2 separate regions of the Homo sapiens genome follow, and region 1 is linked to region 2. The links come from fine-mapping of genetic effects on gene expression. A gene starts in region 2. The other region holds a variant in brackets. All regions are shown on one strand. Distances are between the middles of the regions. Region 1 overlaps CAGE1 (cancer antigen 1). Region 2 holds the start of RIOK1 (RIO kinase 1).

What was found. PIP is the estimated chance that this variant, and not a neighbour inherited with it, causes the effect.
Region 1: its variant is the best candidate, but not a certain one, in a credible set for the expression of RIOK1 in esophagus mucosa (GTEx, PIP 0.67).

What each region holds. Positions count from the first base shown.
Region 1 is chr6:7,338,761-7,344,138 of GRCh38, reverse strand. All of the region lies in intron 11 of CAGE1 (cancer antigen 1), which reads left to right. It also overlaps the pseudogene RPS3P4 and the pseudogene ACCSLP1. Among named protein-coding and RNA genes, the nearest start is that of SSR1, 28 kb to the right of the region's middle. RefSeq lists a silencer at 1,566-1,728. The variant G/A (reference allele first, on the strand shown) is at 2,238.
Region 2 is chr6:7,386,692-7,392,069 of GRCh38, reverse strand. It overlaps RIOK1 (RIO kinase 1), which reads right to left and starts at 2,262. Exons shown (of 17, transcript NM_031480.3): 1 at 1,997-2,262. The coding sequence starts at 2,067. It overlaps CAGE1 (cancer antigen 1), which reads left to right and starts at 2,328. Exons shown (of 14, transcript NM_001170692.2): 1 at 2,328-2,868; 2 at 4,874-5,091. The coding sequence starts at 4,897. RefSeq lists enhancers at 1,590-2,376, 1,980-2,399, 2,530-2,579, 2,590-2,649.

The DNA of each region.
Region 1 (5,378 bases), 48 kb after region 2:
GGCTGAAGGGCTCCTCAAGTGCCACCAAAGTGGGAGCCCAGGCAGAGGAGGTGCCGAGAGCGAGCGAGGGCTGTGAGGATTGCCAGCACGCTGTCACCTCTCACCACTTTCTAACACTTAAGTCCAGATCTGTCTGTTTCAGATGTAGAAGTTCCTGCTCCAAACAACATTACGTGCTGTCTGTGTTTTTGATGAATCTATCCCATTTCTTCCTTTGTAGGAAGGAGCACCTGCCTACAAAATGAGACTTGTTCTATCTTTGTCCCCATCACAATCATTACATCATCCTGGTGAGAGGTCGATCCTCTTATAAAAATGTTCCAGTTCATTTCCTGTCCTGGCTTCCCATTTTCTCAAGCCCTGCTACCTTGTTATTCAAGGTGACCTTCTATTCCATTCCTACCCATTATATGATCCCTGATCATAATCTGTAGTTTTTGAAGTCACTCATCAAAATCTGCATTAACTTATTTACTATTCACCATCCACAGAATGCCAACAGAGTCCTGGAAGAATACTTCCATGCCATATCTCCTACAGACAACACTGAATTCATAAATGACAACTCACTGCCCTGTCACAGCAACTGTTATTTCTACCCACATGAAGCCCCTGTAAATGTTTTTCCATGCAAAACCATATCAAAAATAACAGAAAATTTCAGTGTAAATCCACAACCTTTCTTTCTAAGTTTCATGATACTTTGAGTACAGAATGATCAAAAAGTTTGATTGGATTGAACATTCTTTTAAAAATCCATGTGATTTTATACCTTGATCATAGAGAATAAGGTGAACATTTGTTTACCCCTAAAACTTGTAAACCCCACAGAAAGCTGCATTTCAGTATATAGTAAAAACAACATTAGTACTGCCCTTATTTATAGTCACAATCCCATTGTATTTCTTTGACTTCTTTTTCTTTTCTTTTCTTTTCTTTTTTTTTTTTGTGGGACAGAGTCTCGCACTGTCGCCTGGGCTGGAGTGCAGTGGTGCCATCTCAGCCCACTGCAACCTCCACCTCCCGGGTTCAAGCGATTCTCCTGCCTCAGCCTCCCAAGTAGCTGGGATTACAGGCACCCACCACCACACCTGGCTAATTTTTTTGTATTTTTAGTAGAGACAGGGTTTCACTATGTTGGCCAGGCTTCTTTTTTAATGAAAAAAGGGTTGGCATAAATACAGCCAACTGATCTTCAACAAAGCAAACAAAAACATAAAGTGGGGAAAGCACACCCTATTCAACAAATGGTGCTGGGATAATTGGCAAGCCACATGTAGAAGAATGAAACTGGATCCTCATCTCTCAACTTATATACAAAAATCAACTCAAGATGGATCAAGGACTTAAATCTAAGACCTGAAACCATAAAAATCCTAGAAGATAACATCAGAAAAACCCTTCTCGACATTGGCTTAAGCAAAGACTTCATGACCAAGAACCCAAAAGCAAATGCAACAAAAACAATGATTAACACATTCATTGAGGAGAAGGGTGGCAGAGCAGTTCCCTGAGCACTGACAGTCAAGGACAGTTTGTTCAGTGAGGCTTTAGACTGGAGAGAAGATAAGTGAAAACAGAGACAGAGGTGACAGCCAGCCTGCAGGAGCCACTACAGATACCCGGAGTATGAGTCATCAGTCAGACACCCTTCCTGTGCCATCTGGCCAGATGAGAGGCCAGGTCCTCAGAGACCAGAGCATCTATACCCAGCTGTTGAGATGATGCTGCACTTGCGGTAGACCATGAGGGAGTACTTCATGCAGCTGATGAGCAGGCAGGGCCCTGCCGCTGGAAGAATGGAGGCACACTCAGGCCATCCGTGAGCATGAAGCCCTTCTGGGTCGCTTAATGTGCCAGATGATCCAGCTCCTATAGTCTGGGGCCATAAGTGGCCTGGAGCTCCAAGTGCCTCTTCCTTCCCAGGACTCTAGGGGTGATGTCAGATATGGGCAGGGGGCCCAACTGTCCAGGCAGCCTGATCCAGTTCCCCAACTGAGTGATTGTGAAGCTGCCTTCATCAGCCGTGACCTATCCAACTGTGGGATTGACATCTCTGTCTTCTATTAGTCGAGCTTCCAGGACTACAATGCCTACCAAAAAGACAAATATCATAAGGACAAGAACACCTTGAGCTTCGTTAACCTTGGCACCAGTGAGAACAAGCTCTGCATAGATCTGATGACTGAAAGATTGCAAGAAAGTGACACGAACGGCATTGAGGACATCTTGCTGCA[G/A]TACCCTGATTGGAGAGGGCACCCGTTCCTGCAAGAAGAAGTGGCCCAGTTCCTGACCTACTAGTGCAAGGCACCTGCCCGACTTGATCCAGAAAATGTGGTTGTTCTAAATGGCTGCTGCTCTGTCTTCTCTGCACTGGCCATGGTTCTGTGTGATCCAAGCGAGGCCTTCCTGGCGCCTGCTCCCTTCTATAGTGGCTTTGACTTTAGCTCCTGCCTGTACGTGAAGGTTGAGTTGATTCCTGTCCACCTGGAGAGTGAGATCACTGTTGCAAACACCCATCTGTTCCACCTTGCTGTGGACAAGTTAGAGGAAGCCCTGCTTAAAGCTAGGCCTGAGAGGAAAAAGGTCCGAGGCCTTGTGCTAATCAACCCTCAGAATCTTCTGGGTGACATCTACTCCTCAGACTCGCGATGGAATACCTGGAATTTGCCAAGAGGTATAACCTACATGTGATCATAGATGAGATTTACATGCTATCTGTGTTTTTGATGAATCCATCACATTCCACAGTGTCCTAAGCATGAAAAGTCTGCCTGATCACAACAGGACCCATGTGATCTGGGACACCAGTAAGGATTTTGGCATCTCTGGCTTCCTCTTTGGTACTCTGTTTACACCCACCACAAGGAGATGGCTTCTGCTGTGAGCACCTTTGGCTACCTCCACAGTATCTCTGGCATCACCTAGCACAAGCTGTGTCAACTGCTCCAGAACACAGAATGGATTGACAAAGTGTACCTGCCCACCAATAACTACCGGCTGTGGGAAGCTCACAAGTACATCACTGCCAAGCTAAAGGCATTGGAGATCCCCTTTCACAGCTGCAGCTCTGGCCTCTATATCTGGATCAACTTGAAAAAGTACCTGGATCCCTGTACATTTGAAGAGCAACAGCTCCTCTCTCCGCTTCCTGGACAACAAGCTGTTGTTATCCTGTGGCAAAGCCTGTATGTATAAGGAGCCAGGCCGGTTCCACCTCATCTTTGCAGACGAGCTCCCCCCGGCTAAAATTGGCCATACATCAGTTCTGTGGTGTGCTGCAGGAACAGAAGCAGGCTTTGCTAGTGAAGCAGTTGGAAGATGCATTGAGGGAGTAGACTGTCTGCCTCCCAACGAGTAGCTCTAGCCCATCACTTGCTCAGGGACCCCCTAATGTCAGCCCCTGGTCCAGAAGCCTGGGGTGTATTTTTGTCAGTGCTGCAACTAAGAAAATTGTGGGCTCCTCCAGGAAGATCTCATCTGACCCAGTCATCACCCTCCTTAAGCTGAGTGCCTGCTGTCTTTGGAAGCTTTGCATCTTTTTAGTGTTTGCTAGATATTATATATGCAAAATGTTTTTATTGGGGTTGGGGTGGGAAGGCCTGGAGGCACCTACAGAAATAAAGGAAGCTCCCTGGGCCCCTATTTAGATGGTTTATTTTTATATTCAATATCTAATAAATTCTATGTTCTCTTAAAAAACTGATAAATAGGTGGAACTTAATTAAAAGTTTCTGCGCAGCAAAAGCAATAATCAGCAAAGTAAACAGACAACCCACAGAGTGGGAGAAAATCTTCACACTCCGTACATCTGACAAAGGGCTAATATACAGAATCTACAAGGAACTCAAACAAATTAACAAGAAAAAAACAATCCCATCAAAAAGTGGGCTAAGGACATGAATACACAATTCTTAAAAGAAGATATGGAAATGGCCAACAAACGTATGAAAAAATGCTCAGCATCACTAATGATCAGGGAAATGCAAATCAAAGCCACAATGTGATACTACCTTACTCCTGCAAGAATGACCATAATCAAAAAATCAAAAAATAACAGATGTTGTCAAGGATGCGGTAAAAAGGGAACACTTCTACACTGCTGGTGGAAAAGTAAACTAGTATAACCACTGTGGAAAACAGTGTGGAAAGTCTTTAAAGAACTAAAAGTAGAACTACCATTTGATCCAGAAATCCCACTACTGGGTATCTACCCAGAGGACAAGAAGTCATTATTCAAAAAAGATACTTGCACATGCATGTTTATAGCAGCACAATTTGAAATTACCAAAATATGGAACCAGCCCAAATGCCCATCAATCAATGAATGGATAAAGAAATTGTGGTATATATATACACCACGGAATGCTATTCAGCCATAAAAAGGAATGAAATAATGGCATTCACAGCAACTTAGATGGAATTGGAGACCATTATTCTAAGTGAAGTAGCTCAGGAATGGAAAACCAAACATCATATGTTCTCACTCATAAGTGGGAGCTAAGCTATGAGGACACAAAGGCATAAGAATGATACAGTGCCTTTCCTTTCAGCGGAGCATGGCGGCAAGATCGCCTTACAAATTTCCAAGAAGAGGAAGTTTGTCACTGATGGCATCTTCTAAGCTGAAATGAATGAGTTTCTTACTCAGGAGCTGGCTGAAGATGGCTACTCTGGAGTTGAGATGCGAGTTACACCAACCAGGACAGAAATCATTGTCTTAGCCACCAGAACACAGAATGTTCTTGGTGAGAAGGGCCGGCGGATTCGGGAACTGACTGCTGTAGTTCAGAAGAGGTTTGGCTCTCCAGAGGGCAGTGTAGAGCTTTATGCTGAAGAGGTGGCCACTAGGGGTCTGTGTGCCATTGCCCAGGCAGAGTCTCTGCCTTACAAACTCCTAGGAGGGCTTGCTGTGCGGAGGGCCTGCTATGGTGTGTCGCGGTTCATCATGGAAACTGGGGCCAAAGGCTGTGAGGTCGTGGTGTCTGGGAAACTCTGAGGACAGAGAGCTAAATCCATGAAGTTTGTGGACGGCCTGATGATCCACAGCAGAGACCCTGTTAACTACTACGTTGACACTGCTGTGCGCCATGTGTTGCTCAGACAGAGTGTGCTGGGCATCAAGGTGAAGATCATGCTGCCCTGGGACCCAACTGGTAAGATTGGCCCTAAGAAGCCCCTGCCTGACCACGTGAGCATCGTGGAACCCAAAGATGAGATAACTGCCCACCACCCCCATCTCAGAACAGAAGGGTGGGAAGCCAGAGCCTCCTGCCGTGCCCTCAGTCACCACAGCATAACAGGATCTCCTTGGCAGCTGTATTCTGGAGTCTGGATGTTGCTCTGTAAAGACCTTTATAAAATATTGTACAAAGACA
Region 2 (5,378 bases):
TACCTCTCATGTACAGAAAAGGACAGAAACCATAAAAAAGCAGCTGATAATATGAGATACCAGCTGAAAAACAGACGAGTTTAAGTAAATTCAGATTATCAATCCCAATTTATTAATTAGCCATGGCTCTGAGGGTTCCCCGTGGACATGTGGAGGAAGAAAACAGACAATCATCAAACACTTGCTACTTACCAGGACTTCATACATATGCTCCACAGATTGATATATAATTGCCTAGAGTGGCATGTTAAAGTTGTAACTTTGCCAGATAATTCTTCGTTGTGGGGGACTGTCTTCTGCACTGTAGGATTTTTAGCAGCATATCTCTGGCCTCTACTTACCAGATGCCACTAATGTACCACCACCCCCAGCTGTGACATACAAAAACGTCTCCAGAAATTGCCAAAAGTCCCCTGGGTAGAAGTCGGGATGGCAACATCTTCCCCAATGGAAAATCACTGGTGTATCCTTACAATACCCTGGGGTGGATGGTAAATTAGTGCCCTCTCATTACCATTAACTACCCACTAGCTATGCTGGCTGTGTTTCTTCTGCTGCTTTTCTTCTCTAAAGCTTTTTGTACACTTCTCCGTAACCATAAAACTGGAATGCCCTTCCTCTTTCTCTGGCTAACCCCTACTCATCCATCAAGTATCAGCTCACTATCACTTGCTCAAGGAAGTCTTCCCTATTTTTCCCCCACTTCTCCTTTGTACTACTTACCCAATTCGAATACAAATAGTCTAATTATTTAATAATATCGGTTTCCCCTGCTAGGGTGCAAGCTCTGTGTCATTCAGGATGGTATTTACCAATGCCTCCCTACCACCTAAGACTAGATCTGACTCACAGAAAGCATTCAACATACATATATTTATTGAAAACATCCCCAATAATTAACAAAATCCGCATGTGATGAATCCTTACTGTAAACATAAAGTACAAGCTGTTTTCTTGGAATTCCAAAATAACTCCAATATGTTTCATTTTGCTTTTAGGCAGGAGTTATCCTTCATCCCTCTTTCCCCAGACTCCACGTCCAGTCTACCACCAAACGCTGCCACTTCTACCTCCAAGACATATCTTTAGGATCTGGGCTCTAGTCCCCACCATCTTTGAATCTGATTACCTTATTATTTTTGAACTGGTCTCTCTGTTCCACTCCCACCCTCCATGAACATCATCTACCTAGAAAGAATGATTCCTTTAAATCACCAAGCAAATAATGTCATTCTTCTGCTAAAATCCCTCCTATGGCTTTCCATAAGACCCACATTAATATCTGAACTTTTCACCATCACTTGTAAAGGTCTCCATGATCTGGCCCCCCTTCTTACTTCTCTATCACCCTACCAATCTTCTCAACTACCTCCACTGTGCTCTAGGCACTCTGGCCTCGGGGCCTTTGCTCTTGCTGTCCCTTCTGTGTGAAATGCTGTTCCCTCTGCTCTTGCCAGGATTAGCTCCTTGTCATTCAAATCTGGACTTAACCTTTCCCTACCCATTCAGTCACCACTTGGTATATCAAACGATTTGCATAGTCTACATCATTATTTGGTTTTTAAATGGTGTGCCCTCTCTTTCACGTAGAAGGTAAAGTTCCATGACAGCAGGAAGTTGGTTCTTCTTGTTACCTCCGGCGCCCAGGACAGAACGTGGTACATATTAAGTGCTTAGTAAGTATTTGTTGAACGCTAAATGTGGTTAAAACGCAAAAACCCATGTTTCCTAATCGCTATCCCCAACTCTGCCTCCCAGTGACGCTAACCGACCTGAGAACCGCAGACTCCCTTGACAAGTAGCTTTCACTTAACTCTGCCGCGTGAACTGGGAGAAAAACCCAGCTGGGATGCAGAAACAGGCAAAGGGTTGTCAAGAGAGACGCTGAGTGATGAACCACTAGTCTCCCTCTAAACCGCAAACAAGAGTCCACACCCCAAGGGGGCGGTCAAGGAGAGAGCCGTACCCAGAGCCAGGGCACTGTACGGCCGCCTACCTGTCAGAGGAGTCCGCGTCGTCGAATTGCCCGGGGACCACCCGGCTCATGAGAAGCCGCCGGTAGTCCATGACTGGAGAGCGCCGCCGGAGGCCGCCGCTCTGCGATGGAAAGGAACGGCTCAGACGGATGTACCCACGGCCGATCCAAAGGCCTTGGCGTGGATATCCGCCTTGCAAACCATTCAGAAGCCAACAGTGGCCACCACGTGCGACGGGAAAACGGGACCGACAGATCCACCACCCTGCCACCCCAACCGGAAGCCCCTCACCGCCTCGCCCGGAAGTCTGACTTGAGCGGAAGTCCCGCCCCTGCGCCGAGCTGGGAGTCCGGAGCTCTCTGGATGGCGCGCTGTATAGGGCTGTGGATGTTCTGTGCTCTCAGGAAGGCGTGTTGAGTAGCCGGCACGGCGAGGCCCGTGCTGGCCGTTTCTTCCCGGAGTTTTCGTTTCTGTACCCCACTTTGTGTTTACTGCGGCAGGAGGCGCCAGCTAGCCCACAGGCTGTTCGGCCTAGGGGGTCGTACCTTCCTAACTTCACCACTCTCTGGGAAGACACCGCACCCACAGTAGGGTCGCTCGGGCCTCGCGGGCTGCACCTGTCTCTGCGGAGTTCCCCCGGCGCGGGCGGACGTCACACAGGGGCGTTCCAGCACTCCGGGAGCCCGATTGCGAGTTTGTGAGAGTCCTTGGTGGAGGAGGTTGGAAAGCGTTCTCCCTCCCACAAAACCCGGTGCAGAGGGAGGGAGAGCCAGGTCCGTAGCGTGGGTCCAAGAAACTATGGATCCTGGAAGTGAGCACACTTTTGTGTCTTAAAAAGTTTGGTGTCTCGTTTTGAGGTGAAAAATGAATGAGATAAGTGCTTTTTAAAAAGGTAAAGTTTGTCTTACAACTGAAAAAGCTTTTAAACAAAACTATAGTTTTTGCGAGTAACTCCCGTGACACCTCTTTTAACTCCTATCTTAAAACAGCTTTAGAATGTCTCTGGAACATCTATTCAAACATTTGATAAATATGTTAAAAATCCAACATAAACCTGTAAGGACAAATGAAAGATGGAAAAAATAGTCTAACTTTAAATTAAAAAGGTAAACTGGCAGATTGTGCAGTGCCACATGAGGGATGAACAAAGTTGTAGAAATGTAATTGGAAGTGCTGGGTTCACAAACAAGAAAACTAAGAAACAAGGCCTTTGCGCTTTTTTGCATTGGGAAAACAAAGCAAGAATTTTTCAGATCTCACCACAATCCAGGCAGCATTATTTGAAAGACAAGGGAGAAGTGAGCATAAAGTTGGGCCTTTCACTGATCCTGACTGGTCTGCTTGGCTTACTTTTTTATATTTTACCAAGTGATGACATAGGTTTGAAAACAACTAATTTTCAATAAACTATTCATTCAGAAATTCAATAAAAGAATCCAGGCAGATGAGTAATGACTATAAATTGAAAGAGCTTGATAGAAATAAGTCATTGGAATGCAGGTTTTATTCAATCAATATTTGCTGTGTAGACAGCACTGGTCCATTTGCAGTAGGGGATATTGGAAAGCCCTAAGTATGCTCCTCTCAAGACATTTATGATCTGTAAACACAAACACTAACACCCTTGAAACAGTGGTGAAGCTCTAAAACAGTAAACGAAATCACCAAGTGCTGAATTGTAAGATAGAGATTTAGAGACTGAAGACATTGTAGGAATTTTGAAAATAGATGAATGGGTAGATGGGAAGGTTTTAGGAGAGAAGCACGTGCCAGGGCAGATGACTGAAGCTTAATTCGTAAGGAACATTATCTGTCTGCAGGGAAATGAGCCTGATCTGAGTAGAGCAGGGGAGTACCGGGTAGGGGATGTCACTCCAGGCTATGGATGGCCTGGAAGGACAAAAATTTATAGAATCAATGTGAGTGGCCATCCTTTCCACTCTCAGCTCTGGAGCTCTGGACAGGCCTGAGGAAGTCAGGAGAATATGGACCAGTGTGGCAACATGGGATGGAAAGAAAGCACAGGTTACTGAAAGACTTTTTTTTTTTTTTTTTTTTTTTGAGATGGAGTCTTGCTCTGTCACCCAGGCTGGAGTGCAGTGGGCCATCTCGGCTCACTGCAAGCTCTGCCTCCGGGGTTCACGCCATTCTCCTCCCTCAGCCTCCAGAGTAGCTGGGACTACAGGCACACGCCACCGCGCCCAGCTAATTTTTTTTTTTTTTTTTTTTTGTATTTTTAGTAGAGATGGGGTTTCACCGTGTTAGCCAGGATGATCTCGATCTCCTGACCTCGTGATCCGCCCGCGTCGGCCTCCCAAAGTGCTGGGATTACAGGCGTGAGCCACCGCGCTCGGCCCTGAAAGACATTTTTAAAGGAGACATGGACGGGACTTGGTATCTGAATAGCCATGCATGATGAGGTAGAGGGATGCCAAGACAAGTCCAGTTTTCAAACACATGTACCTGAGGGAATAGGCGCAGTATAGGAAAGTGAGGAGGGAAAACAGTTACAATGCTGGGTTTGACTTGGTAGTGAGGTGTTCAAGTGGAAGGTATCAAGTAAATAAAAATCCAGGATTTTGTGGAAACTATTAGGTCTCTGATAATATTTTGTAAATATCCTTGATTAAATAACACAGAGATCCCTTCACTTCTAGGTCCAAAGCCTTCTAGGGAGTTATTGGATAGTAGCCAATACTGTTTGTTTTTCTCCAAATCAGTATTTACTACCATACCAAATTACGGTATACTCAGACTAAAATTTTTAATTTTTCTAATAACTTGACAAATGACATTTCAAATAAGGGCAGTGAACTTTGCTACTTTCTTAATGAGAAGAGGGATAGGGAAAAAACTTTTTGTTTATACCTACTAATAGACACATTTTTTTTTTAAAGAAGTCTTCTATTGTTCAACAGTTATGAACAAGGACTATCAAAAATTTTGGTCATCACCTTCAGATCCTGTACATTTTGAAGTGGATACTTCTCATGAAAAAGTAGAAAGCATGTCAGAATCGGATACCATGAATGTCAGCAATCTTTCTCAAGGTGTAATGCTTTCACATTCTCCAATCTGTATGGAAACCACCGGCACCACTTGTGACTTGCCTCAGGTGTGCATTGCTTATAAGTTCCAGGAGGCTCAGATGTATTCAGAATTCACATTGTCTTCCATATGAAAATTTCTTCAAAACTATAAGGAACAATAAAACAATATTCGGTGGACACATAAAGGAGGGGAATACAGGGTCTGGTTTTCCCAGTTTCGCTAGCGTAAGATACATTTTGACCAGCCTGGGCAACATGGTGAGACCCCATCTCTGCTAAAAATATAAAAATTAGCCAGGCATGGAAGCGAGCACCTGTAATCCCAGCTACTCTGGAGGCTGAGACAGGAGAA